4 linked regions of the Homo sapiens genome follow. The main gene of each other region encodes a partner of the protein of the gene in region 3 in a complex. Each region holds a gene or a part of one and is shown on either strand. Other genes may lie near its edges.

Region 1 (7,865 bases), on a different chromosome or scaffold from region 3:
ATTACTCAAGTAGAGTCCTTAGCAAGACTTGGTGTCTGAGGATCATCTGACTATACTCTACAAGAAGGCAGTAATTTCTTTTTTTGAGACGGAGGAGTTTCGCTCTTCTTGCCCAGGCTGGAGTGCAGTGACGTGATCTCAGCTCACTGCAACCTCCGCCTCCTGGGTTCAAGTGATTCTCCTGCCTCAGCCTCCCGAATAGCTGAGATTACAGGCATGCACCACCAAGCCCGGCTAATTTTGTATTTTTAGTAGAGATGGGGTTTCTCCATGTTGGCCAAGCTAGTCTCGAACTCCTGACCTCAGGTGATCCTCCCGCCTTGGCCTCCCAAAGTGCTGGGATTACAGGTATGAGCCACTGCGCCTGGCCGAAGGCAGTAATTTCTTGGCCAGTACACATACTATTTCCTGTCCCTCTCTTTTTTTTTTCTTGAAACAGAGTCTCACTGTTCCCCAGGCTGGAGTGCAGTGGCGCGATCTCGGGTCACTATAACCTCTGCCTCCCGGATTCAAGCGATTCTCCCACCTCAGCCTGCCAAATAGCTGGGACTACAGGCTTCCACCACCATATCTAGCTAATTTTTGTATTTTTAGTAGAGACAGGGTTTCTCCATGTTGGCCAGGCTGGCTCAAACTCTTGACCTCAGGCAATCCGCCTGCCTTGGCCTCCCAAAGTGCTGGGATTACAGGGGTGAGCCACTGTGCTCAGCCTTCTGGGTGTCCTTCTCTTCCTCAATGTTCCCGTCTTGATCTTACCTGAAGGACAGCGTTGGCATAATCATTGGCCTTTATGTTATTCAGTCCCACAATACCCGGCAGGTAAGTGGTACCATCATATGCCCGGGACAATTTGGCTTGCTTGTCCAAGTTTGCAATTTGCTGCTTTGTGAAAGTGGGCTTCAACACATACTGCAAAGCAAAAGAAAATGCTAAGTTGTTTAAGAGCTGAGTTCACAAGAAATGTCTGTAACAGTAATTTCTACAAAAACAAAAAACACTTGGCCATGAACATCCCACCACACACAGAAAAATAGTCCGAACCAGTAGGTGTAAAGATTGAAGTAACACGGAGTAGATCCTCTCCCATGGCTAATCTACAAGGGGATCTCTGTGTCTATCCCAAAATCACTGAATCCCAGGTCTTTTCGCCGACCTCAGGTCTGGTCAACTCATGAAAACTGACTGCCAGAAACCATACAATACTCAAGTTCCTAAAGGCAGTCTAAGTCTCAGATAGAACCTCCTGGGAGCAGCACATGGACCTAGCTTTGGAGCAGGAGAGTTTCCTCCACTCTGGGTGGGAATGAGGATCTCCATGAGTCCCTGGTACTGGAAGAGCAGGATCAGACTCTTCCCAGGCACAGAGTTACCACAGTCATTATGTCACAGACTGGACAGAGATCATCGCAAACTCACTTTGAAACACTGAATTTAGCCCAGTTTTTCCCTCTATAAATACTGACCATAACTTTTTTTTTTTTTTTTAGATGGAGTTTTGCTCTTGTTGCCTAGACTAGAGTGCCATGGCATGATCTTGGCTCACTGCAACCTCCCCCTCCCAGATTCAAGCAACTCTCCTGCCTCAGCCTCCCAAGTAGCTGGGATTACAGGCATGTGCCATCATGCCCGGCTAATTTTGTATTTCTAGTAGAAACGGGGTCTCATCATGTTGGTCAGGCTGGTCTCAAACTCCTGACCTCAAATGACCCACCTGCCTCGGCCTCCCAAAGTGCTGGGATTACAGGTGTGGGCCTCCCCACCAAGCCTGTCCATAACTATTTTAATCTCAACTATTAATAATAGGCTTATACAACTTTTACAAGTAGAAAAAGCAGTATTTCAAAGACTAAATACCACGTTTTCCTTAAAAATAAACAGAGCATGAACAACTTAGGCAATGCAGTGAGACTCCATCTCTACAAAAAATTTTAAAAATGTATCTGGGCATGATGGTAACGCCTACAGTCCTAGCTACTTGGGAAGCTGAAGTAAAAGTATCACTTGAACCCATGAGGTCGAGGCTGCAGTGAGCTGTGATGGCACCACTGCACTCCAGCCTGAGCGACAAAGTGAGACCCTGTCTCAAAAAAAAAACCAAAAACAAGAACAGAGCACATGGCACCATGAATACACCCCACGTGCTGAAAAGGAAAATAATAATCAAAAGCCCAACACTAATCAAACCCAAGAGGACTTTCCATGCTCAGTACAATGAGTGTCTCTTGGCACAGGTCACAAACTAGAGCCCACAGATAAGATATCTGTGGCTGGATGCTCTGGCCACGGCGTATGTTAAAAGCAGCCAGGAGCCGGTGTGCAGCTTGGTAAATACTGTCCTACACCAGGACCAATTCATATCCCTACTTCACAGTGTAGAAGAATAATTTCACAAAAACACTTTAAACCCCATCAGAATACACCCATATTTCTTCAGTCCTAGCCCTCAATGTTACAAGTAGAAATGACAGTTAAGTTACAGACTACAGGCTGCAATTATGAATTCTGACCTTACTCAGTTTCCCCAGTTCTTCCCAAAAGAGAAAGCAGCCTCTCGATGCCTAAAGGGACTGAGATTCTTCCCTGTCCTCAGGTGGGGCAGTCCCCTGGGAGCCCTGGGATGGCTCATTAAAGAATGGACCCCAAACCAACCCTCTTAGACACACACCGTGATATCCTCCAATGAGGAATCGATGATCTCATAGTTGTCTGGAAGGCAGTAAAACTTGAGGGTGTGGAGGTTGAGGAAAACATGGTGGCTAAACTGGACACTGTGAATGTAGGCGTGAGACTTCAAACCCCGGCCTGTAGGGAAGGGTGAAAAGCTGTAATAGAAGGGCAGATACTAGAACACACAGATCAGGTTTGCTTTTCCTTTCATTATTTTCTACCGGAACATGTTAATATCCGCAAAAAACAAATATTATGCCATTCATAAAATGAATCCTCCACATGAAGTTCTCTCATAAAAAAATTAGCAAGAAAGACTAGCACATTAGTTACTTCATTCTCTAAATGGCCTAAGACATTGATTAGGGAAACAAATTTCACTATTTTTTAATATATATGTAAAATATATATAACCTATATATATATCTATATATAATACATATAACTATATATTCATACATAGTTTCCTATATACATGAAACTAGAAATATCTATGCATATATGTGTGCATAAATACACATAAACATAAATACATACATATCCTATGACAGTCCATCATCACTCAGTCCTGGATTTCCAAATGCCCATATTCAGGACAATGCTTTATCTATGTAACTTTTTTCATGTTGCTACTCCTTTCTAGAATCTCTCTCCCTTAACCATTCAAATTCTATGTCCTGCCAATTCAAGTCCCACCTCAGCTCTTCCATGAACTCAACATAAACACTCCAGCTAACATTGATTTTTGCACATTCAACTCCTATTGCACTTATTTTTACTCCGTGCCACAGTCCAGCAGTAATCTTTATGATCTAACAGAACTCACTGGTTGTTTTACATGTCAACCTTGACTCCTTATAAGCTCCTTACGAGAGCAAAGAATACAGTTTTTATCTCTTTTTTTGAGACAGGGTCTTGCTATGTTAGCCAGGTGGGTCTTGAACTCTTGACTTTAAACAATCCTCCTCCTCGGCCTCCCAAAATGCTAGGATTAGGTGTGTAAACCACTGTGCCCAGCTGTTTTTACCTCATTTGAATCCTCCACTATACTATGTACATGGCATCTGCTTGGTGTGAATGAGTTGAAATGATAAATTTTCAGAAAAAAATGGAATAAAAAAAGTCCTTTGAGCTAAAGAATATTCCAAAAAAAAAAAAAAAATTGTAGCCTGGGTAACATAATAAGGCCTTGTCTCCACAAAAAAATAAAATAAAATAATTAGCCAGACAGCAGGGTGCAATGGCTCACATCTATAATCCCAGCACTTTGGGAGGTACAGGCAAGCACACTGCTTGAGCTCAGGAATTTCAAGACTAGCCTGGGCAACAGAGTACAATCCCATCTTTTAAAAAAATGTGGCCGTGCACGGTGGCTCATGCCTGTAATCCCAGCACTTTGGGAGGCTGAGGAGTATGGATCACTTAAAGTCAGGAGTTCAAGACCAGTGTGGCCAATATGGTGAAACCCCCTCTCTACTAAAAAATACTAAAATTAGCCGGGTGTGATGGTGCATGCCTGTAATCCCAGCTACTCAGGAGGCTGAGGCAGGAGAATCACTTGAACCTGGGAGTCAAGAGGCTGCAGTGAGCCAAGATCACGTCACTGCACTGCAGCCTGGGTGACAGAGTGAGACTCCATCTCTTAAAAAAAAAAAAAATTAGGCCGGGCGCGGTGGCTCACGCCTGTAATCCCAGCACTGTGGGAGGCCAAGACAGGTGGATCACCTGCGGCCAGGAGTTCAAGACCAACCTGGCCAACATGGTGAAACCCCGTTTCTACTAAAAATACAAAAATTAGCCAGGCATGGTGGCAGGCGCCTGTAATCTCAGCTACTCTGGAGGCTGAGGCAGGACAATTGCTTGAACCCAGGAGGCGGAGGTTGCAGTGAGCCAACCTGGGCAACACTGTCTCAAAATAATTTTAAAAAAGTAAAAATTAAAAAAATACATATATTAGAGATTCGAGAACCCAGAGTCTTTAAGATTACAGTCTTTCATATGACTAGCTCTTTCTCCCTTACAGACATATCCAGGTTCTGACCAGTCAGAGAACCTCTTATTGGTTTTCTAAGAATATTTCAATTTCCTGGGAACAAATAGAAATTATTAGATATGATTCCTGAGAACAGCTTACTTTCTTTAAAAAAAAAAAAAAAGTCCCTCTGGAGCAGATCTGCAGTTAGCTCTAACAACTTATTTACCTTGAAAGTACTTGCCACACACCAGACAGGCATAAGCATTGATGTGTGAGAGGGAGATAGAACACAGTTTCTCAAAGTCAAAGTCCAGCACACTCCTAAGGAAACAAAACAGAAAAAAATAAATAGGATGGACATGTAGGAAGGCACGCAAATGAAGCAGTGCTGGCTCTGTGACCCATGATACCACATAACATCCTTCAGAAAACAGTTCACAACCATATATACACCATGGGGGACACTGATTATTCCTCACCTCCACCCGCCATGCTCCAAAGCACTGTTGAGGTGTCTCCACCAGACACATAATACCCACGAGCCTCTTTCTCATTAGTGTTTGTAACCAGTTCAGGACTTTCCATTGCAGTCACTTTCTCTAGAGAGAAAGCTACAAGTTAGACTAAGGTAACAGTACCCCAGCAGCATTCTGGAGGTGGAGAGGACATAAAAAGGGTGAATAAATCCTTGCATAAAAGAAAAACATATCACTTAAGCCCAGGAGTTTGTGACTAATGAGCTCTGATCCACCACTGCACTCCAGACTGGGATACAGAGTGGGATCCTCTCTTAAAAACAAATAATAATAATAATTAATTACAAAATAAAAATGTATTTTTATCCATAAAAACAAATAGCCTGAAGAATTTCAGAATACCTATAAACAGACCTATTTATTCAAGTGCAAAGTGAGTACTGGCAGTAAGGAACAAAAACCTTATCTCCACTGAATCCACAAAGAGATTTATTCTCAAATAGTAACTCTTAATTAACCGATAATAATCCCAAAGAGCTATGCTGTCTAATTTATTAGAGGCCACTAGACAAAGTGGCTATTGACAATTAAATTTAAAATACAGCTGTCCCTCAGTAGCCACAGGACACTGGTTCTAGGACCCCTTCAAATACCAAAATCCACAATGTTCAAGCCCCTTACAGCTGGCCCTTTGTACCTTCAGGTTCCATATCCTGATACTGAGGCTGACTGTAATTCAATTAAATAAAATTTAAAATTCAGTTCTTCAACTGCAGGAGCCACTGAAGCCACAGGTGGCTCATGCCTACCATAATGAACAGCCCTTATAACTTTTTTGGTTTTTTTTTTTTGAGATAGGGTCTCACTTTGTCATCCAGGCTGGAGTACAGTGGCGCAATCTCAGCTCACTGCAGCCTCAACCTCCTAGGTTCAAGCAATCCTCCTGCTTCAGCCCCCCAAGAAGCTGGGACTACAGGAGTGCACCACCACACCTGGCTAATTTTTTTATTTTTTGTAGAGCTGAAGTTTTGCCATGCTGCCCAGGATGCTCAAACTCCTGAGCTCAAGCAATCTGCCTGCCTCAGCCTCCCAAAGTGCTGGGATTACAGGCATGAGCCAGAGCACCCGGCCATAACTTTTTTTTTAAGTTTTTTTAAAAGATGGGTCTCGTTGGCTGGGCGTGGTGGCTCATGCCTGTAATCCCAGCACTTTGGGAGGCCAAGGCAGGTGGATCTCCTGAGTTCAGGAGTTTGAGGTCAGCCTGGCCAACATGATGAAACCCCGTCTCTTCTAAAAAAAATACAAAAATTAGCTGGGCGTGGTGGCGGGCACCTGTAATCCCAGCTACTCAGGAAGCTGAGGCAGGATAATCACTTGAACCTGGAAGGCGAAGGTTGCAGTAAGCCAAGATCGCGCCATTGCACTCCAGCCTGGGGGACAAAAATGAAACTCCATCTCAAAAAAAAAAAGATGGGTCTCATTATGTTGACCAGGCTGGTCTCAAATTTCTGGCCTCAAGGGATCCTCCTGCCTTGGCCTGCCAAAGGGCTGAGTAAAGGCGTGGGCCACCACACCCAGCTCTTACAAGAGTAATTATATTATTGTAAAACATTCCCCTACAATATAGGTTGAAAAACATTCTACATGCCACCTGGGAATCAGAGAAAAGAATGCTATGATGAGGTAAACTACCTCAGCTTTCAAACAAATTTCTGTGTTTTTTTTCTGCTGAATCCCAGGCACCCAAAATAGTATCCAGCACATACTAGATACTCCATAAACATTTCAATGTGCTACTGTTATTTTAGGATACTATGCATCCTGTTATCCCAACATACAAATGCAAAATAAGCTCTTTAACAACATGTGTTCTGACACTTTAAATCAAAGAATAAGGAGTAACATGGCAAGAAGCACAACTCTCTAGACAGGTTCAAAAAAAGTAAAGTTTGTCAATGTGTTGTTCACTGTACAGTCCAAAAACTTTCTGCACAGATTCCATTGTTCTTGTGCTATACTCAGCATCTCTGTCCTACTGACCTGTTAATGGTGTCCAGGTACGGGCAGTGGCGGCTCCTCCGGTCCTCAGAATCCACTCGGCCATTCTTTGCTGAAAGGAAAATCATCACAGGCTTTGAAAATGGGAAACCTATACTCAGGGCCAACTAACAGAACAAAAAAAGAAACAGAAATGGGAAAAACTAATCAAGATGAGTTCCTATTGTTTGGGTGGCAACAATATCGAAAAAAAAGTCCACTAGCCGGGCGCGGTAGCTCATGCCTATAATCCCAGCACTTTGGGAAACCGAGATGGGTGGATCACCTGAGGTCAGGAGTTCAAGACCAGCCTGGCCAACTATGGTGAAACCCCGTCTCTACAAAAAACACAAAAATTAGCCAGGCATGGTGGTGGGTGCCTGTAATCCCAGCTATTCAGGAAGTTGAGGCAGGATAATTGCTTGAACCTGGGAGAAGGCGGTTGCAGTGAGCAGAGATCGTACCGCTGCACTCCAGCCTGGGCGACAAGAGCAAAACTCCCTCTCAAAAAAAAAAGAAAAGAAAAAAGCCCACTAATAGAACAAGCCACAAACTGGGAGAATATATTTGGTATACATAAAATCAACAGAAGATTTGTTTGCATTTTACATAAAGAAATCCCATAAAGCATGAAAAATATGAAATATGTCACAAGCACTAAAATAAACTAATTGTAATACAAATGTACCATATAGTTGTGTGTTTCGTTT
Region 2 (7,865 bases), on a different chromosome or scaffold from region 3:
GGAGCTGTGGCAGGAGAATCGCTTGAACCGGGAGGCGGAGGTTGCAGTGAGCCAGACCAAGCCAGTGCACTCCACCCTGGGCAACAGAGTGAGACTCCCGTCTCAAAAACAAAAAGGAGGGTCACACTAGATGGTCTCTAAGGGTCCCTTAAGGCTGAGAAGTCTCATCTGTATCATGAACTCATATTTGCTGAATGAGTGAATGAAGTTTAGTAATTCCCAGTCACAACTTTTCTCTAAAATATAAATTACATCACTTGTATTTATCTTCTATACATATTCAGAAAACATGAACTGATTTGGTTGGATTGGTGAAGTCTGGTAGCATGAAATGTATCTTATGACACTATCACATTAATGGAAGGACAGCAAGCACTCCAGTTGCAGGTATGGTATAAGCAAAAGGCCACAGGGAGAACATACAGGTAGGGACATGTTGGGGAAACATGGTGTAGAGCAACTGTATTATATGCTTTATACCAAGGAGAGTAGTGGGAAGCTGAGTTGGATTCTTGGCTGGGTTAACGCAGAGTAACAGGGGCTTGGATGAATTCGACATCCTTTTCCATGTCCCAGCCCCCTGCCCAACACATAGTAACAGAACCAAAACACAAATTTGCATCATAAATTTTATTCCCGATGCGGGACAGATTCCTTCCATCCCCAAATGAATCACATGCTGCCCTGGAAAGACCTAGGAAACTCTCCTACCATCTCCAGAGAAGTAGTGAGAAAGGCAGGTGCTGGGGACTGGGAAGGCTTTGAAGTTTCCCAGCCTACTTATCCTCCCCTTCTCAAGAGAGGATAGCTGTTCCCTATTACTCCTCTCATCCACTCATCCCTTAAAAAAAACCCACAAAACCATCATTAGTAAAAAAACAAAACCCCTTCAAGTATTGGGGGTTAGGGGTTCTGGGCTGGGACTTGGGGTTATGGGTCACCAATGAAAGAGGGAGGGGAAGAGGAGGAGGAGCCATCACTGTTTCTGCTGCAGGGCTTCCTTCCTTGCCGCATCCTGTAGCAACTGTGTGTCGACCTCATCTGCTGGCAGCTGCACGTATCGGACCACTGAGCCCCGAATGAAGCAGTTCTTCACTGATAACTAGACAAAGATGGACAAATATGAAAACACCCTTAAAAATGTCCTCTAACCACCCAGGGGCCTCCTGCTTTAGAGGTGTTTCCTCTTCTCCACAGACCCCAACTCACCATGTGAGGGTATTTCTCAGGGTCTGTGACACTGATGTCAGTTAGTTTGATGTTGAGATACTAGGAAAGGAAGATGAACACCATTATTATTATTATTTTTTTTTTTTTGAGACAAGAGTTTTGCTCTTGTTGCCCAGGCTGGAGTGCAATGGTGCCATCTCGGCTCACTGCAATCTCCGCCTCCTGGGTTCAAATGATTTTCCTGCCTCAGCCTCTCGACTAGCTGGGATTACAGGTGCCCACCACCACGCCCAGCTAATTTTTTGTATTTTTAGTAGAGACGGGGTTTCACCATGTTTGTCAGGCTTGTCTTGAACTCCTGACCTCAGGCCTCGGCCTCTCAAAGTGCTGGGATTACAGGCGTGAGCCACCGTGCCTGGCCGACGAACACCATTATTAACCCTAGAGACATGATGTAAGAACCCAACCCTTAAGTCTCCCCTCTCCTTCTCCAGGAACCAATTCTGGGGCCCGTGCTATATCTCACCTGATCCACAGAATGGAGGGTTCCACAGATGCTGTCAAGGGCAGAGGGAGAGAAGAATCAAATTAGTTTATAACAAAGTCAACATAGAGGTGACTTCAGAGCTGGGATGAGAACATGACTGGGAGAAGTCAAGGACTTGAGGATGTCAGAAAAGGTAGAACCAAAAGGGGGCATTCCTAAGCCCTGGAGTAGGAAAGACAACTAACAGAGTAGTTTATTTTCAACCCCACATCTCCTCTCCCTAAACCAATCCATTCTTTTTTTTTTTTTTTTTTTTTTTGAGATGGAGTCTCACTGTCAGCCAGGCTGAAGTGCAGTGGTGTGATCTTGGCTCACTGCAACCTCTGCCTCCCAGGTTCAAGCGATTCTCCTGCCTCAGTCTCCTGAGTAGCTAGGACTTCAGGCGCATGCCATCATGCCCGGCTAATTTTTTATTTTTAGTAGAGATGGGGTTTCACCATGTTGGCCAGGCTGTTCCTTAACTCCTGATCTCAGGCGATCTGCCCACTTCAGCTCCCCAAAGTGCTGGGATTACAGGTGTGAACCACTGTCCCCGGCCAAACCAACCTATTCTTAACAGCTACCATTAAACAACTGGTAAAGGCTAGACCTGTATTCTATATAGTATTTGTAATCTTTACAGCCATCTTTCAAAGTAGTTATTACCTTCCAGGGGCTCAGAGAGGTTGTTTTAAACTTTATGAGTTTAGAACAAATGGGAACTTCAGTCCAAGTCTGTGTGACTCCCAAAACCATCAGCTATTTTTTTTTTATTTTTGCGACAGGGTCTCACTCTATGGCCAAGGCTGGAGTGAAATGGCGTGATCATGGCTCACTGTGGCCACTTGAGTAGCTGTGATTACAGGCTTGAGCCACCATGCCCAGCTGATTTTTTTTTGAGATGGAGTCTCGCTCTGTCGGCCAGTCTGGAGTGCAGTGGCACAATCTCGGCTCACTGAAAGCTCCATCTCCCAGGTTCACGCCATTCTCCTGCCTCAGCCTCCCGAGTAGCTGGGACTACAGATGCCGGCCACCACTCCTGGCTAATTTTTTGTATTTTTAGTAGAGACGGGGTTTCACCGTGTTAGCCAGGATGGTCTCGATCTCCTGACCTCATGATCTGCCCACCTCAGCCTCCCAAAGTGCTGGGATTACAGGCATGAGCCACCATTCCCGACTTTTTTTTTTTTTTTTTGTAGAGAAAGGGTCTCACTGTGAATGTCACCCAGGCTAGCTATTTTCAAACATTTATTGCTTTGGAACCAGAGCCCATATGTGGATAAAGGTAGGTAGCATTACTCTTGATGATGCAGGCATGAGTGATGTCCTCTCCATTCCCCAATCCTCGAGCCCCTTGAAATGCTATTTGAGGAATGCTATCAAAACACCAGTGCTCTTTGAGAGAATGGTGCAAAAATTTAAAAAAACAGCCTTTGGCTGGGAATGGTTGTTCACGCCTATAATCCAAGCATTCTGGGAGGCTGAGGCAGGAGGATCGCCTGAAGCCAGCTGGAGAACAGCCCAGACAACATAGCAAGACCTCATCTCTATTTTAAAGTTATAAAATAAAATAACTGTGGCCGGGCACGGTGGCTCACGCCTATAATTCCAGCACTTAGGGAGGACGAGGCGGGCGAATCACGAGGTCAGGAGTTCGACACCAGCCTGGCCAACATCGTGAAACCCCATCTCTACTAAAAATACAAAAAATTAGCTGGGCATAGTGGCAGACGCCTGTAATCCCAGCTACTCGGGAGGCTGAAGCAGGAGAATCACTTGAACCCGGGAGGTGGAGGTTGTAGTGAGGCGAGATCGAGCCACTGCACTCCAGCCTGGGTGACAGAGTGAGACTCCATCTCAAGAAAAATAAATAAATAAAAATAATCGTAATAAATAGCAGTTTTAAAAACGTCCTTATCTTGCCAAAAATAAAGTTGGCAGTTCTCTGCCCCAATTTTTGTAAAATTCTGAAAGTCTTTAAAACCCAGCGTCTAGGCCATGTGCGGTGGCTCATGCCTATAATCCCAGAACTTTAGGAGGCCAAGGTGGGCGGATCACTTGAGGCCAGGACTTCAAGACCAGCCTGGCCAACACGGCGAATCCCCATCTCTACTAAAAATACAAAAATTGGCCGGGCGTGGTGGCTCACGCCTATAATCTCAGCACTTTGGGAGGCCGAGGCGGGTGGATCACGAGGTCAGGAGATCGAGACCATCCTGGCTAACACGGTGAAACCCCGTCTCTACTAAAAATACAAAAAATTAGCCGGGCATGGTGGCGGGCACCTGTAGTCCCAGCTACTTGGGAGGCTGAGGTAGAAAAATGGCGTGAACTGGGAGGCAGAGCTTGCAGTGAGCGGAGATCACACCACTACACTCCAGCCTGGGTGACAAAGCAAGACTCCGTCTCAAAAAAAAAAAAATACAAAAATTAGCTGGGCATTGTGGTGTGCACCTGTAATCCCAGCTACTCAGGAGGTGAGGCACGAGAATCACTTGAACCCAGGAGGAAAAAAAAAATTTAAAAATAAAATATAAAAATACAAAAATTAGCTGTGTGTGGTGCATGCCTGTAGTCCCAGGTATACAGGAGGCTGAGGCACGAGAATCATTTGAACACAGGAGGTAGAGGTTGCAGTGAGCCAAGATCATGCCACTGCATTCCAGCCTCGGTGACAGAGTAAGGATCTGTCTCAAAAAAAAAAAAAAAAAAAAAAGACCCACTTAAATATGCTCTAGGAAATTAATTTAAATGAACTAGTACTAGGCAATCATTATTTTTTTTGAGACAGAGGGTGAGTCTCTGCCTAATAACAAAAACAAAAACAAACACCCAGTATCTGAAACCCACTGCCTCAGTAATGTTCTCACCATATTGCTAGCTGCTGAAAAACATTTGACAGCACCCCACCATCTCCAGCAGTGAAATAACATTTGGGAATTGTACAAAGTGGTGTCATTTTATTAAGTCCCTTAAGGAGGGGGAGATACATAGCACAAAAGTGGTCTGACAACAAACATAAGAGAAAGAACTTTTGGCCAGGCGTGGTGGCTCACACCTGTGATCCCAGCACTTTGGGAGGCTGAGGCAGGAGGATCACTTGAGGTCAGGAGTTTGAGGCCAGCCTGGCCAACATGGTGAAACCCCATCCCTACTAAAAATACAAAAAATTAGCTGGGAGTGGTGGCATGCACCGGTAATCCCAGCTATTCGGGAGGCTGAGGTGGAAGAATCACTTGAACCCAGGAGGCAGAGGTTGCAGTGAGCCAAGATCGCGCCACCGCACTCCAGCCAGGGCAACAGAGTGAGACCCTGTCTCAAGGAAAAAAAAGGAGAAAGATCTTCTTTCTCATCCCAACAGAAAAGTCACTTTAAAGCCACACACATATTGGCTCACACCTGTAGTCACTGCACTTTGAGAGGCTGAGGTGGGAGGATCACTTGAGTCCAGGAGTTCAAGACCAGCCTGGGCAACACGGCCGAGACTCTGTCTCTATGAAAAATTTTAAAAATAATATAAAAAGGCCGGGTGCAGTGGCTCACGTCTGTAATCCCAGCACTTTGGGAGGCCGAGGCAGGTGGATCACGAGGTCAGGAGTTCAAGACCAGCCTGACGAAGATGGTGAAACCCGATGTCTACTAAAAATACAAAAATTAGCCAGGTATGGTGGCAGGCACTTGTAATCCCAGCTACTTGGGAGACTGAGGCAGGAGAATCACTTGAACCCAGGCAGCAGAGGTTGCAGTGACCCGAGATCATGCCACTGCACTCCAACCTGGGTGACAGAGTGAGACCCCATCTCAAACAAAAATAAATAAATAAATAGAAAAAAAAGAAGGCTGGGCGCAGTGGCTCACACCTGTAATCACAGTACTTTGGGAGGCCGAGGTGGGCAGATCACAAGGTCAGGAGATTGAGACCATCCTGGCCAACGTGGTGAAACCCCTTCTCTACTAAAAATACAAAAATTAGCTGGGCGTGGTGGTGCATGCATATAATCCCAGCTACTCGGGAGGCTGAGGCAGGATAATCACTTGAACCAGGGAGTCGGAGGTTACAGCACCACTGCACTCCAGCCTGGCGTAGACTCGACCAGAGCGAGACTCGTCTCAATAAAAAAAAGAAAAAAGAAAAAGAAAAGAAATGTTACTACGGCCGGGTGCAGTGGCTCACACTTGTAATCCCAGTACTTTGGGAGGCTGGGGTGGGCAGATCACGAGGTCAGGAGTTGGGAGACCAGCCTGGCCAACATGGTGAAACCCTGTCTCTACTGAAGATACAAAAAATGAGCCAGGCGTTGTGGCGCATGCCTGTAATCCCAGCTACCAGGGAGGCTGAGGCAGGAGAATCACTTGAACCCGGGAGGCAGAGGTTGCGGTGAGCCGAGATCACGCCATTGCACTCCAGCCTGGGCGACAGGGCAAGACTCTGTCTCAAAAACAAAATAAAATAAAAAAAATAAAGGTACTTTAGGGCCTAGGGTTATAACACAACAGTTAGGCTTCCCATGTAAAAGGCCCAGGAAGGAGAAAAGAGGAGAATCAAAAACAAGTCATCACACCAAATTGCCTAAGACTGATAGTGATTACCGTACTTGTCTTGCTCTGTGGCCCCAATCTATACACATCAATATCACTTGCATTGCCAGTGCTACAAATGGAAACCTGTGTTCTAAAACGCAAAGGCCCTTAAGTCCCTCTCCTCACCATTCCCTGCCCTGTCAACGTGTAACCCATGAAAAAATTATCTCACATAGAAATGTGGAAGACAGCCAGACACAGTGGCACACACCTGTAATTCCAGCACTTTGGGAGGCCAAGGTGGCAGGACTGCTTGAGCCCAAGAGTTTCAGACTAGCCTCGGCAACACAGTGAGACTCTGCCTCTCCAAATAATTAAAAAATTAGCTGGGCATGGTGGCATATAGCCCCAGCTATTCAGGAGGCTGAGTGAGCTATGGTGGTGCCACTGCACTACAGCCTGGACAACAGAGTGAGACCCCCATCTCAAAAAAATAAATGTGGAAGACGCTTTTGGGAAGAGAATACAATTGATCCCATCTTTCTAAAGGATAATGAGGTAACAGGTATCAATATTTTAAATGTACTTTTTTTTTTTTTTTGAGATGGAGTCTCAGTCTGTCGCCCAGGCTGGAGTGCAGTGGCCTGATCTCAGCTCACTACAACGTCCGCCTCCCGGGTTCATGTGATTCTCCAGCCTCAGGCTCCTGAGCAGCTAGGATTACAGGCGCACAACACAACATCTGGCTAATTTTTGTATTTTTAGTAGAGATGGAGTTTCACCATGTTGGCCAAGCTAGTCTCAAACTCGTGACCTCAGGCATCCACCCGCCTCGACTTCCCAAAGTGCTGGGATTACAGGTATGAGCCACCGCATCTGGCCTAAATGTACATATTATTTAAAGGACTGTACAGATAAGTACAGGGCCAGGTGTGCTGGCTCATGCGCGTAACCCCAGCACTTTGGGAAGCTGAAGCAAGAGGACTGCTTGAACTCAAAGAATTTGAAACCAGCCTGAGCAACAAAGTGAGGCACTGTCTCTAATTTTTAAATAAATAAATATTATTTTAAGAAAGAAAGTAGGACTAGGCGCAGTGGCTCACGCCTGTAATCCCAACACTTTGAGAGGCTGAGGCAGGTGGATCACAAGGTCGAGAGTTCAAGACCAGCCTGGCCTAGATGGTGAAACTCCATCTCTACTAAAAATACAAAATTTAGCCGGGCATGGTGGTGGGCACTTGTAATCACAGCTACTAGGGAGGCTGAGGCAGAGAATTGCTTGAACCCAGGAGGCAGAGGCTGCAGTGAGCCGAGATTACGCCATTGCAGTCCAGCCTAGGTGACAGACTGAAACTCCATCTCAAAAAAAAAAAAAAAGAAAGAAAAAAAGCTGGACAGAATCATATTTCAGTTGTGTCACTTACTAGTTTTGTAGACTTGAACAAGTGGTATAGCTGATCTAAGCCTCAGTTTCCTCGTGTAAAACAGCAATAGTATATATTACTTAGCAGTGTTTGAGAAATCAATCAATAAATGTATTCAGAATAGTGGTTAGTCAATACGTCTTCGGATATTATTTTTCTTTCTTTAAGCACCTATCATATAACTGGCCTATGCTAGGTATTAGATACACTACATGGTTTCACCA
Region 3 (6,671 bases):
CAGGACATTTCTAGAAGCAGCCAAGAAAATAAGAACCTACATGCTCTGGTTTATTAAAATTGGGCAATGAATCTAAAAGGAATTTAAAGCATTTGGCCTTATCTTCCTCATTTCTTGGTATTAGTTTTCTATGTAAATTAATAACTAGTTAGGTATCTAGAGTTGGCAAATACTGACACTTTCAGGTAAATGGTAATGGGGAGGATGGCCACGAGGGTAAAAAACCGGGGAACACTGTCCAATTGTGGGAAGGAAACCACAAGTGTCTGGAAAACAATGTGCAAAGTTCACCTTCTTTCAAACTCCCATTTGAACCTTCCATCCACAGTGCTGATCACAAAGTCCTGTTGCACTAGTCTTCTTGTCATTTAAATATTCATTTAACATTTATTGAAGACAAATTCTTGGCCAGGCCCTCTGCCAGGGGTTGTGAATATGGTCTCTGCCTGTAAGCAGCAATTTGTCTCATGGGGCTTAGTGTTCTTCAGTCCACTCTGTTCAACTACCCTGCCCTCCCCAGAAGCTCTGAGGACCCCCTGATACCTACCCCCAGCTTAACAGCCCTCTTGTGTTGCAGATCTCCTACCTAGACCCCTCAAGAGGACTCGGGCTACCATCAGGCCCAGTCAGCCAACAAATCTGAGCTCCACCCATACTGATCCCCACACAGGTTGCTCCAGAACCTCCTGGATTCCAGAGCAATAGCTTAAAGTCATAGTGTCAGTCTGAGGTGTGTTCCAAGAAATTTGTTACTAATAGGAAAGTACCAAAGGGATTTTTCTATAAGTTGGGGCAGACTAAAAGTTTTCCTGTGTAATAGGCATTGTGTCCAGCTCCATTTCCCCTTTCCTCTGGTTTCCTTCAGAGAACGACCCCTCCTTCTGCACTTAGACCATACAGCTCAGGTGGGGATAACCTTGCTCTTAGTTCCAGAAATGGGCGTGTGACTGAGGCCTGGCCAATCAGAGCCCCACATTCTCATGGCCGTAAAAACCAGCCCACAGATGGGCACAGGGACCAAGCAAGGAGGATGAGACCACTTTAGCTGGAGGGCAGGTAGGCTGGAAGTCTGCATCTGCTACAGGGAAGAGCTTGCCCACGAATGAAATCCATGTAGTTCAGCAGAGCTGAGTGACAGAGAAACATCAACTGTGCTTCTTGATCTAGCCAGGATGACTCCTGGAACTTTTATTAATTTTCTACATTGAACACAGCTGAGCATTACTCACATCTGACATCTGTTCAAACAATAACATTTCTCCCCTCCTGGCAGCAGGCTAAAAGCAATATGGGTAATAGCTAAGTATTATTTGAGACAGGGTCTTGTTATGTTGCTCAGGCTGATCTCGAACTCCTGGGCTCAAGTAATCCTCCCGCCTCAGTCTCCTTAGTGGTTGAGTTTACAGGTGTGTGTCACCGCACCCACTTTAGCTGATTAAATAAAAGGGTGTGTGAAACCACTTTCTGCCTCTTAGTGTGAAGAGGGATAGTACTCTAGTTTGGGCAAATCTTCAAAAATCACTATTTGAAATTTGAAAATCGTCCATTTGCAGCTAATGATTAAGTTTAACTTGGGATACTCAAGTTACTTTTCATTTTGGGCACATTTCATCTCAAAGATGTGGTCCCATATTTTGTCCATTTTTCTTTGTGGGAGGCAATGGCAATTCATATCGGCCTCTCATAAAACAACCAAGACCGGGATCCAGGCATGATACTTGCTGAAGAGGCTTCCCTTAGGCTAATCTGACACCTCATTGCAGAAACCACCAGTCACCAGCTCCACTGACCACCTGCCATCCAGCTGGCTGGAGCCGAGTGCTCTGCAGACTCAGAAGTCCAAGGCGTGGCTCCCAGGGGCCCTCACACCATAACCCCTCAGTGGACAGCACCACTGCAGAGGAAACCTCAGTGTGGACCATGGCAGGGCCCTGCTTGAGCTGTCTCTGTTGTGGATTGAGTCCCAGCTCCAAAAGGACTCACACATTGCCTCCCCTCCCTCCATTTCCTGACACATAGGTGGCTATTCTGCAGTTAACCTTTTATTGTCCCTCCCCTTGTATCTTAGCAGCTAGGAAATGAAGTAGGTTGGTATGTTTTAGTTGTGTGTGCATATGAGAGTAACAGTGTCAGATATTAAGGTTCATGGGTTTTAGAAATGTGTATAATCAAGTCCTCACAGCCAAAAGTTTTAGTGTAAACTATCAGTTCCAGGAGAAAAAGGAGAAAGATAACTAAGAATGAAGAGAAGAAAGTGTCCAGGAATTCAGTGTGACTATCAGAAACCACTAAAAATGAATGCAGTGCTGGGGAGAACTGCAGACTGGCAGAGCGAGGCCAGATGGCCTGTCACCCCACGCCTTAGTGAACACCAGGAGCCAACAGACTGCCCAGAGCCAGGGCCTTGGTACCACACCCACACCACAGGCTCACACAGGTAGGAGGCAGGCAGGTTCAATCTTGCTGCCACATACTAATGACCACAGGCGGCCTGAGGTCTTTGAGGTTGTTTCTTCTAACATTCTGCAGGAGGGAGTTCATTTTTCAATACTGAATGGGCTGCTGTAAACAGGTTATCTCCTGGGACCACTACAGCTTAAGGACAAAGCGTGGGGATGGCACAAGTGAAGGGAGGGTGTCTCTCCTGCCTCCTCACCTAAGATGAAGCCTCCATCAGCTCACCCACACTTGTTTTTCTCTTCTCCATGAACTTGCAGGGGCATGTACCATTAGTAAGGAAAATAAAACCTTTTAAATATGTTTACTGAAAGCATCTTTCTTGCACAAGGCTTAAAGTACTGTGCATTTGTGAGCATATCGTGCTTGATAATGAACACGCACACACATTCAGCTCATTTACAGACAAACCATCCACAAGTTGGATTTTCTACATTTCAAAATGGAATGACCATAGCGGAGGATGTCAGGTTCTAAGCCCTGTCTTGATAAAGTTTGAGAGATTGTAACACGCTTTTACTTTCCTCTTTAGGTTTTAAGCATTATGTGCTGACTGAAGCTAGAAATAAAAACAGCTTTGCTTTCAGCCAATTTCTGCTTTACTGTGTCACTGAGACATGTTGTTTGAGACCCCTCATCATTAATGGCCAATGATCCAAGAGTGGAAAAATGGTCTGAGTCATAATTATAAACAGGTTATGATCAAGCTGAACGTCTGACCTTAGAATTAAATCAGGCCAGAGAAAAGAGAAATCATGCTTTGCTCTGTCTTCTACTGCAGGGTTGATGTTTACAATGTCCCTCTGCCCCTTTCTCCCATATTTGGGTGCTCTTCCCCATGCTCCTATGGCATCCTGCATGTGCATGATTCTATCAGCACTAATCTTACTGCCTGCAATTGTTGGTTTAAACATCTGCCTCCCCAGAAGACTTGAGGGCAGAAAACTTTTTTTTTTTTTTTTTTGACACGGAGTCTCGCTCTGTTGACCAGGTTGAAGTGCAATGGTGTGATCTTGGCTCACTGCAACCTCTGCCTCCTGGGTTCAAGCGTCTACTGCCTCAGCCTCCTGAGTAGCTGGGATTACAAGTATGCGCCACCACGCCTGGCTAATTTTTATATTTTCAGTAGAGAAAGGGTTTCACCATGTTGGCCAGGCTGGTCTCAAACGCCTGACCTCAGGTGATCCACCCACCTTGGCCTCCCAAAGTGCTGGGATTACAGGCATGAGCCACCATGTCTGGCCCAGAAAGCATTTTGATAAAACTCTGGTTCCCAGCACTCAAACCTGGTGCCTCAAACACAGTAGGTGCACTGCAAATGTGTGCTAAGTGAAGGTAAGACATGCTTACTTTAAATAATTCACAAGACAGAAGACCGCACTTAAAAAAATCTACAAGGAAACACCAATTTAAAGAAAAGAAAAATCAGTAAGTATCTGTGAGAATAATGGAGCAAAAGAAGTCCTGAAAGAGTTCTGCATCTTGGTGGTCATATTTATTGGAGAGCTTGAGAAAAATGAAAATACCATTTAGCTTAAGAAGTTGTGAGTTATCTGCAAATCAACTCATTTCAGGAGTGGAAGAATCCCCGGAATTATTTCTTAATATCAAAATGTATGCAGGTTTCTCTTATGAATGTTTTGTACTTTTAGAGAGGCCACTGTACAAAGTCTCCCGTTTTCCATACAGGACAAATTCTTTGTTTCAGCCAACTCTCAGTGGAGGGGCAACCAGGACAACGCCATCTCCCCGGACAAAGAGCATTGGAATATTCCGTTTCGTTGACTAGAAGAGAAAAAAAAACAGAACATATTTGTACAACTGTGTATTACTGCTTATTGTTTGTGACAGAAATGTTAAAAAATGGATTCATCATGACACAAAAAAATTGGATTAAAAAACCTGATCACTTCCCTTGGTAGCACCAAGAACCAATCCATCAACTGCTTCCTTTCGACAATTGTGGCAGAGACTGGAGCTACCCATTAAAACTCACTCTTCTCCTCCTGGGCACACAGCTGGACTATGTTTCTTATTCTTCCTTGCAACCAGATGTAGCCATCGGATTGCTTTAACCAATGGCAAGTAAACAGAAATGACAGGACTATATCCAGACTGACCCAGAATGCCCCTCTGCAGTCGTTCCTCTAACACTAAATGAACTAAGATAATGGCGAGAGCTCAGGGGATGGCAGAGCCACTGATAGGTGAAGCCTGGGTCCTTGACTTGCCACCTGGAAGAAAGCTATTGTGCAGATCTAAACCCCACCAGGGCTGTCATATGGGCAAGAGATCAACTTCTACTTTGCTGAGCCATTATGTGTTACTTCTGGGTGCTACTGTGGTCACACATATGGAATGGATACCTTGAAGCATGAGCTTAGTGGTCAGGCCTTGGGCAGTAAAGAAACACATGAATGTTCGAAATCCTAATATTATGCCTTGGCAAAATATTAGATAAAACTTGGAATGTAGCCCAAGGGGCTCCTAAACTCACGAGCTCTGGGAGAAGAGGCTGGAAAAGCCAAATGTTAGTAGATGTTGCTGTTAGCCTAATGTATTTAGCAGGGCAGTAGAAGAAACAGAAAAGCTCAGGCAAGAACTAGTTGGTTTTCAAGCAGAGATGAAAAGAAACAGGATTCACAGGGTTAGAAAAGCCACTGGCTTTTAGACCCCAAGTTACAGAAATAAGTATGAAAAAAGGCTTTGAGAAACAAGGCCCAGCAAAATTTCCCAGGTAAACAAACTCAGCCCTGAGGCAAAGATCAGATTAAGGGTGTTGTCTTTCCACCCAAACTTTTGTAGCAAATGGCCTCAAAGTAGTCAACATTAATTTCAGAAAGCAGAACAGGGGTGAGAAACTGAAGAAATAAAGCAGTCCTAGAAACTATGCCTAGGGAAGAGCTTAGACAGGTTACTGGCCCTTTGAATTGTTTGGATGTAAACAGCTCAGAAACCTATGTTCTAAGTTTTTAAAGAAATTGCATTGCCAAAGAAACCATAAGCCTGGCCAAAAAAAACCTTTGACTATTTGCGTCTTCCAGCATAATAGAAGTTGGCCCTGAAAGCTCTGCGGACCCCATTTAGGGTTGCCAGATTTTGCAAATAAAGATGTAGGACGCACAATTAAATTTAGTATAAGTTCCAAACATTGGATGGGACATATTTGATCTAATTGAGGGATTTCTGCTGCTACCAGGACAGGGAGCATTCATGCCTTCCCAGTGGGATTCACCACTGTTAGGGACCAGTAACTGTCTTATGTTTCTCATTCCTTCCTTCTCTGGGAAGAGAGTTTTTGTGGTGGATATCCTGTCCCTGCTGTGTTTATCATAAATGTGGGAGGGGTAAATTATTCATCTTCTTTGGGGATAGGTTTCTGTACAAGTGACCACATGTGGTCTGACGGAGAAAACCGAAAGTCACGTGGCAGTCCTGCACCCTGAGCTGGATATCCTGCTTGCATCCTTTGGGGGTACAGATGGTTCTGTCTGGGAAGTAGGATTCTGCAACACCCACTATCGTTGATCTCTGCAGCAACTTGGCCATCAAACTCACAAAACTCGGCCAGGCACGGTGGTTCACACCTGTAATCCGGCACTTTAGGAGGATGAGGCAGGTGGATCATGAGGTCAGGAGATCAAGACCATCCTGGCTAACACGGTGAAACCCCGTCTCTACTAAAAATATAAAAAAAAAAATTAGCCAGGTGTGGTGGCGGGCACCTGTAGTCCCAGCTACTTGGGAGGCTGAGGCAGGAGAATGGCGTGAACCTGGGAGGCGGAGCTTGCAGTGAGCCAAGATTGCGCCACTGCACTCCAGCCTGGGTGACAGAGTGAGACTCCGTCTCAAAGAAAAAAAAAAAAAAAAACTCACAAAGCTCAAGATAGCCAAGGGCACACAGCTTTATACAAAGGAAACACAGCACATGCCAGCTGGGCAGTGGCAAGTGTCTCAGAAGTCTTTACAGCATTCCAAGGATTCTTCCCTAGCTACCCAAATGACTGCTTAGTTAGCAGGTGGGTGCAGGAGCCACCCTGGCTTAACTGCGCCAAGCTCCACACCAGAACCAGTATCGTTTACAACAGTTCCATGAATGTGGCTTTACAGTCACCAAGGAGGGGGCACACTCCACTACAAGGGTTGCATGCTCTCAGGGAAGACCATTGCTATGGGCTCCTAACAGTATTCAGAGCTCATTCACAGTTCTCTCA
Region 4 (7,874 bases), on a different chromosome or scaffold from region 3:
TAAGGTCATGTAACATCGGGAGAAGCTTGGTGAAAGACATGCAGAAACTTTTTTTTGGGGGGGCACTATTTTTGCAAATTCCTGCAAATTTAAAATTATTTCAAAACTAATTTTTTTTTTTTTTCTGAGACAGAGTCTCGCACTCTCGCCAAGGCTGGAGTGCAGTGGCGCAATCTTGGCTCACCGCAACCTCCGCCTCCCGGGTTCACAGCATTCTTCTGCCTCAGCCTCCCGAGTAGCTGGGACTACAGGCACATGCCACCATGCCCGGCTAATTTTTGTGTAGTTTTAGTAGAGACGGGGTTTCACCATGTTAAACAGGATGGTCTCGATATCCTGGCCTCATGATCCGCCCACCTCGGCCTCCAAAAGTGCCAGGATTATAGGTGTGAGCTACCGCACCTGGCCTCAAAACTAAAATTATTTTTAAAAATTTTCCTCAGAGGAAAAATGTCATCTGTTAGAAGACAGTTAATCGGTATTCAGTCAGCTGAAGTTTTTCTTTAGATGTCTGTTTAGAGGGCAATCACTAAAGCTAAAAAAAGCAAATACTATCACCAATTCCACTTTAAGTTTTTATCATTAAAGACTGGCAGCCAGGCGCAGTGGCTCACGCCTGTAATCCCAACACTTTGGGAAGCCGAAGCGTGCGGACAACCTGAAGTCAGGAGTTCGAGACCAGCCTGACCAACATGGAGAAACCCTGTCTCTACTAAAAATACAAAATTAGCCAGGCATGGTGGCGCATGCCTGTAATCCCAGTTACTTGGAGACTGAGGCAGGAGAATCGCTTGAAATGGGGAGGCAGAGGTCACAGTGAGCTGAGATCACACCACTGCACTCCAGCCTGGCCAACAAGAGCGAAAGTCCGTCTCAAAAAAAAAAAAAAAAAAAGACTGGCCAATAGGAAATGCCAAGGCAGTGGTCCTAACACCTGCAAGAACATCTCTTCCGACAAGAGCGAAATTCCATCTCAAAAAAAAAAGACTGGCCAATAGGAAATGCCAAGGCAGTGGTCCTAACACCTGCAAGAACATCTCTTCCGACAAGAGCGAAATTCCGTCTCAAAAAAAAAAAAGACTGGGCAATAGAAAATGCCAAGGCAGTGGTCCTAACACCTGCAAGAACATCTCTTCTGAGGGACAAAAAGTGCACATTTCTCCGTGTTTTTCCTGCTCCCTCTCACTCTCAGTAAAGATGTTCCATGAATAGCTAAAATTTAAATGCATGAGCCACTCCAAGCCATTCATTACAGACACCAACACACACTGGTTAGGTCAGCTGCTCCCAGAGACTGGCTGGAGGAGCCACGAAAGCCGGACACATCTCACCTCATCGTAATTGGTGTCATTTAGATCCTCGTCGTCATCGTCAGCAGCCTGATTTTTCTTCATCTGGTCCCCAACGGTTCTCTTGCCTGGGGGTGCATGGCGATCATCCACAGGGTCATTTGCATCACGGGCGGGCCCAATGTCTGACCGCGTGGTGAAGCCAGTGGCGCTGCAGGAGACCCCCAAGACACCGGGTGTCTGAATAACTCTGTTCCTGTGCTCTTCTCCACTCCTGGTTATCACTTACTAACACCTCTTTTTCTAACACCTTTGGGAAACCTCCAAAGATCCTGGTGACAATGAACTGCAGTCTCAAACACTTCTGATCTTCTCTGCTTACCTGAAAGTTTCAGCCTACCCTGATGATGTTACCAAGGCAATCTCTCTCCACCCTAAGGCTTCGATCATCTCCCCCTCCACATCCAACCAGGCCCTTAAACCCAACTTGGCCCACACTGAGCTCTTCCGTGCCCACCTTACAGCTGCTCTGGGGGGTTTCAGCTGATAACAGCTGTCCCAGATGCCACGGGACCATGATGTAATTTTTGCCTCCCTCTCCCACTTTCCCCATCCTGTCTGTCCCCAAGTACTAATGAATCCACTTTCAAAATCCCTCCTTCCCAGACTATGACTCCCATCACAGCTGGAAACCAAGTTACCTCTCCCTGCCTTTAGCCTTCCTCTACTTCAACCCATGCTCTGCCAGATGATTCTTCCCAAAACACAGCTCTGAGTAAAAAATTCTGGGCCGGGCGTGGTGGCTCACGCCTGTAATCCCAGCACTTTGGGAGACGGAGGCGGGTGGATCATGAGGTCAGGAGTTCAAGACCCCCCTGGCCAACATGGTGAAACCCTGTCTCTACTAAAAATACAAAAATTAGCCGGGCGTGGTAGCGGGCACCTATAATCCCAGCTACTCAGGAGGCTGAGGCAGAGAACTGCTTGAACCCGGGGGGCAGAGATTGCAGGGAGCTGAGATCGCACCATTGCACTCCAGCTTGGGCGACAGAACAAGACTTTGTCTCAAAAAATAATAATAATAATAATAATTCTGAAGGGTCATGATCTTTCTAACGTCTCCAGGAGCTCTAGCCTGACGCTCAAGGCCCCTCCAACCTCCTGAGCTCTATTCTATTCGCTGTACATTCCACTCACACTGGACTCCCTCCTGTTCCCTGGGCTTCCTCCTTGCCTCACTTTTTTTGAACTCCCACACGCAGAATGTCAGTTTCTCTTCTATCGTCACCGTTTCTACAGCCCTAAGTCCAGCTCTCTTACTAAACTTGGCTCCAATGCTACTCTCCATTAAGCACTGGGTTCTAAATCTGGTCCTCTTTACGTACTTATTTATGGTAATAGCAAACCCTCCTTAGTGAGCTTGTGTGTGCCCCACAGATTCCAATATAATACCACCACCAAGAAAAACCCAGTAGTGTTCCTCATCAAATGAATAGCCAAATAGGATAATAACGACTGCTCACTTATCCAGCAACGCACGGTGGTCATCTGTGTTGCAGGCATAGAGGACCCAGGCACGCTTAAGGCGGGGCGGGCGGGCGGGCGGGGGGGGGGAGTGTCAGCCCGACCTGAGGAAGGTGGTCGCGTGTTTCCACTACACGTCAGATTCCTCTACTCCTCACTGCAGACCGTATACAGCATTACCCATCTTACAGACCAAAACACTGGGCTGAGAGTCAATGTGTCACATCTAGGCGGCAAGCAGGGTGCACACACAGGTATGTCCTGACCCCAAAGCCCGTTGCTTCCTGCAGGGATTAAGCCGATCCACCAAGCGTCTTTCAGACTGCGCGGCCATAGACCCCCGCCCCCAAACACGCCCCAAAGCACTGCGCTCCTGTAGCCGGGTCCCCGCCCCTCGCGCGCCGCCCCAGGCCTCACCCCCGGCCCAGCCCCGGCACGTAGCCGAGGGGCGCGGGCATCCCTAGGAACGGTTTCTTCTTCTTGTTCATGGTGGCGGCGACGACCAAGGCTAGGAAGGAAAGGAATGAGGCAGCGGAAGAGGGAAAGACGCAGAGACTCTAGGCTTCGACGTCCGATGCACTCCGTAGCAAAGTGTCGCCGTCGTCGCGTCACCCGCGCCCCGGAAGCAGAGCGCTCAGTCCGCACACGCCCCGCCCACTTTTGATTCCCTGGGCGGAAGTCCCGACGTCCTGGTTCGACGACTTCCGGCCGCGGCTAGGGGGCAGGAACGTGGTAGGCGCGTGCGCGGGAGCGCCTCCTCGTGGAGAGGCGGAAGAAGCTAGGTCGAGCTTGCACTGGGACCCTAACTGGCCCCTGGGGGCTAAAAACAGCCTGGGGCATTGCTGCTTCCCGAGTGCTCTGATGCAGTCCGGAGACCTGTCTGTGAGAGTGGGACCCATGGTCCCCTCCCTCTGAACCCATGGCCCCCTCCCTCTGAACCAGCCCAGCTGCCCGCCCTCGCCCCTGGTGCGCCCTGTCCGAGCAGAGCTGTACCCTGTCCAGTTGTGTAGAGCTTGTGTGTACTGGTTATGGGCACACCTGTCTGTGTGCGTCCTGTGCGCACACTGCTGCCCTACGCTTTTAGCACTCATATTCTTGAACCCCCATTCAGGCATCTGTCCCTCCAGTGGGACTAGAGACCCCACCCACGCCCGCCAACATGCCTTGGACATTCTGGTGAGGGCCACATCCTTAGCTCCTGGAGAGCTAATTGACGAAATAAATAACCGCAGCTGAGCTGTCGGGAACACGTCAGTACATGAACATGGCTGTCAAGCATGTGGGTGAATTCTGTGTGTGTGATTAGTGGGGTGTGTGCACAGAGGTCACGTGTGCTCGTGTTTTGGGTGCAAGTGCATGACTGTACTCTGTGCATGCATTTCTACATGTCTGTGTGCATCTCTGGTCCTCCTGCTGTAAGACATCCTCCAGAGCCCCTACATACACCCAGGGAGAGCACCCAGGCTCCTGGGCAGAGCAAGCCGAATAGCTGGTTGCAAGCCTGGCCTGCTGCTGCACCAGGCAACCACAGTTCCCTAGCCCAGCCCCATCTCAGCACTTCTCACTGGAGTCCTGGAGCAAACACACCGCTCCGGCCTGCTACAGCCTCCTTGGAGTTCCCCTCTGCCCCATCTCCAGGCAAGCCAAGCCCCTTTCAGTTACAGAGCACTGTACCGCCCCCTCTCCCCCGGGCACTGAGCCAGGTTCTGGGGCTGCAGAGGGAAGGGAGAACCACCCTGATGTTCACAGTGGGGTGGGCGGTAAGCAAGAGTCAAGCTGGTTTCTCCGGGGAAGCGGGTGCCTATTTGAAGGCGAGTAAAGACGTAGGAGACCGAGGAAAGTGTGTGGGAGGCGTTGACCTGCCCCTTGTCCTGGCCCCGGTAGGTAGAAGACCCCTGTGAGATGCCCCTCAGCCCACCCCCACGCACAGAGGGGCCCGACCTCAGAGGACGCCCGGCAGGTTCACGGGGACTCTCCTCCGCGGAGCCGTGCCCAGGGGCGCACGGACGCCCCTCGCCCTGGCGGACAGCCTTGGTGCACGCAGGCCCGCGCGCCGCCGACACACCTCGGAGCTCCCGGAGCGCGCCCGGCACACAGGGCTCGGCGGCAGGTGCCTCGTCGCGCACACTCGCGGGCCGCGGGGACCGGCTCGGGCGCGGGGCCGGCTGGGGCGGGGCGGGGCGGCGGCGCGCGTTCCCCGCCGGCCACACCGGCCGCCCTGCACTCGGCGAGGGGCGTGTGCGCGGGCCTGGCACCCGCGGGCCCCATGTTCACCGAGCTGAGGTCCAAGCTGAGCCCCCCGCGTGGCCGCGCCGGGGCCGTGCGCGCGGGCTTCGGGGAGCGCCGGGATGTGGACGGTGAGCGGGGCTGGATTGGGGAGCGGGGATTTCTCGGGCGGGGGTCTCAGGGACCCAGAGGCACGGGGGCGGGGCGGGACCCGGCGGGCTTCGAGCGGCGGTGGCTGGGGGTATTCGGCGGATGTCTCGGCTCAACGGGGTCCCGTAGCCTTTGTCCTGCTTTAGGGGGCAGCCAGCCTCAGGCCTTGGGGGTCAGCGCGCCCTTGGCTTGGGGTGAGGGGGTGTCAAGCCGGGGCGCCTGTGTCCAGGCTGGCACTACGCTCGGGTCACCTTTTCCTGCGCACGGGGAAAACCCTCCCCCGCTTTTGCAGTGGGGCCGAAAGGGGGCCGAGGTCACATCCCGCCTCGGTGCCCCCGCCCCATTTCCTTCTGGAATCCTGACGTTGGGGCGGGAGGGACCGGACCGACAGACCGCGGGACGGACGGAACTCCCTCCGGGAGTGCAGGCAGGAAATGGGCGGAGCCTGCTTGGCCGGGGCAGGTGCCGTGCGGGCTGAGGAGTCCGACGGGTTTCCCCGGACTGCCGCGCGCTTCTGCACCAGCCCCGCCGCTCGAGGCCCTGCAAAGCCCGGCGACCACGGCGCCTGTCCGCTGGAAGGCGCGGGCTTAGAATAAGCCTTTTCCCACAGCACTAGGGGCCACCTCGGGGCGGTGGCCCACTGAGCACACCCTCTGCTGACCCCAGACCTCAAATTTGGAGTCACCCAGGGGTCCGGTTCCTGAAAGTTGCAAGAATGGGGGCGGAAGGTGTTATGTCTCCTAAGTCTTACAGGCGTGGGAGGACGGGGAAGTAGGATGTGGTTTTCACCGATACTTAGACCTCCTAGACACATCCCCAACCCCTGCCCTGGGTGTGGAGTGGGTGGCTGAGTCTGAGGCCGGGAGGGTCTCTCACTCTAGGGTGGATGGGATGAGGGCCCTAGCGTGGGAACCTCACCTGCCCTGCTGAAGGCCTGGGTGCTAGGGTGCTGTAAAGACAGGGGCAGGCCTGTGCCCACCTTCTGTCTCCCCACAGGCTCTGTTCACTTGCAGATACCATACAGAGCCTTCATTCATTCATTCATTGACAATGAATGTGGGGTGCCCCTCTGTAACCAGACCTGGATCAAGACGCCTGCCTCCCCAGACTCAGGTCAGCAGTGCCCCCAGAGATGATGACAAAGCTCAGATGAAACACTTTAATGCAGTTACTGTGGGAAGAGGGAGCACAGAGCATCACCGTGGGTCCCCAAGCAATGGCTGCACCCCACATACCTGTGCTGACCCGCCCATATCCAATGGGTACCCACCATTCACATGGCCGGTGTTGTCCCGGGCTGCAGGCCCTGTGGGGGGCGGCACAGCTGGAGAGCCCAGCGCGTGTTTGCGGAGTGAGCCCTGCTTGTCAGTTGGCCCACAGTTCAGGCTGTCAATGAGTCATAGTCAGTGAGTCGGGCCCCAACACCAGATAGGGCTGTGTGAACTGGGTGCCTTCAGTGGCGATGGGCAAGCAGCATCCTCAGCCCGGTTTCCCCAGCACAGACGACCTCCCCGGACTCGGGATCTGCCTTTCCTCAAAGCAGGCCGTGTGTGCACTTCCTGGTCTGGTGTGGTGTGTGCAAGACTTGTGGGCCAGCCCAAGGCAAGGGTGAGGTCAGGGCTGTCCCAGGATAGCTCCTCTTGTCATATGTCTCAGGTTCCCTTCCCTAGAGGGCACATCCTCTGATCTAAGAATCCATCCTGCTCCCCTGGGTGAGGGCTGTAGACTTGCAAGATGAAAGGTGTTTCCAGTTCTTCTCTTTTTGTGCTGGGTGAGGTCCTCGAAACAGGTCCTGCACACTTCCTTCTGCCTTTGGAGGCTTGGGAACCCCTCATTGGGGAGGTGATTTCCCGCACTAGTGTGGAGGAGATGGGGCAGGGAGCTAGCTCTCAAGTAGAGGAAGCCTCTGGTTCTGCCCTTGACTGCCCTGACCAGGCACCCCCACACACAGCCACTGCCCACTTCAGCTTCTGCCGGACCCTCCTGGAGCACACGGTGTCAGCTGAGAGCATCCCCTGCCACTTGCCTCGGACACCTGGCACCAGCCTCACGTGGCATGACTCCCGCAGCCAGAGGGCGGCCAGCAGCAGGCCAATCAAGCTCCTGCAGCAGCCCGGCACAGACACCCCCCAGGTACCCACCCACTCCACCCACCTCCGTCCCTGCCCTCCTTCTCCACCACTCTCACTCTGCCTGCCACGCCCCTCCCCTGCAGGGCCGGCTGTACTCTGACCACTATGGCCTGTACCATACAAGCCCCTCGCTGGGTGGCCTGACCCGGCCCGTGGTCCTGTGGAGTCAGCAGGACGTCTGCAAGTGGCTCAAGAAGCACTGTCCCCACAACTACCTCGTCTACGTGGAGGCCTTCTCCCAGCATGCCATCACCGGTACAGTGGCGCTGAGGGTGCTGTGGGAGTGGGGCTAACCTGCCTCAGAGCGTCTCTTCCCCACACTCAGCCTGCCTTTCTCTTGCTGTTGTTTTCGTCTGTCTAGTTTCTCCTGTGAATCAACCTCCCCTCTGTTCTTCATCTCCGCAGAATCTGTCTTTTCTATCTCTCTGCCTTTCTTTTTTTTTTTTTTTTTTTTTTTTTTTGGTGAGACAGAGATTTACTCCTGTTGCCCAGGCTGAGTGAAATGGTGCGATCTTGGCTCACCACATCCTCTGCCTGCCAGGTTCAAGCAATC

The links.
Region 1: LSM3 (region 3) and USP39 share a complex: the UniProt entries of both Homo sapiens proteins name them as parts of the U4/U6-U5 tri-snRNP complex.
Region 2: LSM3 (region 3) and LSM2 share a complex: the UniProt entries of both Homo sapiens proteins name them as parts of the precatalytic spliceosome.
Region 4: LSM3 (region 3) and PRPF6 share a complex: the UniProt entries of both Homo sapiens proteins name them as parts of the U4/U6-U5 tri-snRNP complex.

What each region holds. Positions count from the first base shown.
Region 1 is NC_000002.12:85,618,583-85,626,447, reverse strand, and holds part of USP39 (ubiquitin carboxyl-terminal hydrolase 39), read right to left. Parts: intron 7,229-7,865; coding exon 7,159-7,228; intron 4,964-7,158; coding exon 4,869-4,963; intron 2,823-4,868; coding exon of another isoform or gene 2,803-2,822; coding exon 2,666-2,802; intron 910-2,665; coding exon 757-909; intron 1-756.
Region 2 is NC_000006.12:31,796,781-31,804,645, forward strand, and holds the end of LSM2 (U6 snRNA-associated Sm-like protein LSm2), read right to left. Parts: intron 1,728-7,865; coding exon 1,697-1,727; intron 1,270-1,696; coding exon 1,210-1,269; intron 1,103-1,209; coding exon 977-1,102; 3' UTR 616-976; downstream 1-615. UniProt on the Homo sapiens protein: Plays a role in pre-mRNA splicing as component of the U4/U6-U5 tri-snRNP complex that is involved in spliceosome assembly, and as component of the precatalytic spliceosome (spliceosome B complex).
Region 3 is NC_000003.12:14,195,607-14,202,277, reverse strand, and holds the end of LSM3 (U6 snRNA-associated Sm-like protein LSm3), read right to left. Parts: intron 4,243-6,671; coding exon 4,162-4,242; 3' UTR 1,156-4,161; downstream 1-1,155. UniProt on the Homo sapiens protein: Plays a role in pre-mRNA splicing as component of the U4/U6-U5 tri-snRNP complex that is involved in spliceosome assembly, and as component of the precatalytic spliceosome (spliceosome B complex).
Region 4 is NC_000020.11:63,976,673-63,984,546, reverse strand, and holds the start of PRPF6 (pre-mRNA-processing factor 6), read right to left. Parts: upstream 3,416-7,874; 5' UTR 3,302-3,415; coding exon 3,231-3,301; intron 1,501-3,230; coding exon 1,332-1,500; intron 1-1,331. Other genes in the region: SAMD10 (sterile alpha motif domain-containing protein 10), read left to right, coding at 4,553-4,693, 6,203-6,302, 7,141-7,322, 7,405-7,576. UniProt on the Homo sapiens protein: Involved in pre-mRNA splicing as component of the U4/U6-U5 tri-snRNP complex, one of the building blocks of the spliceosome.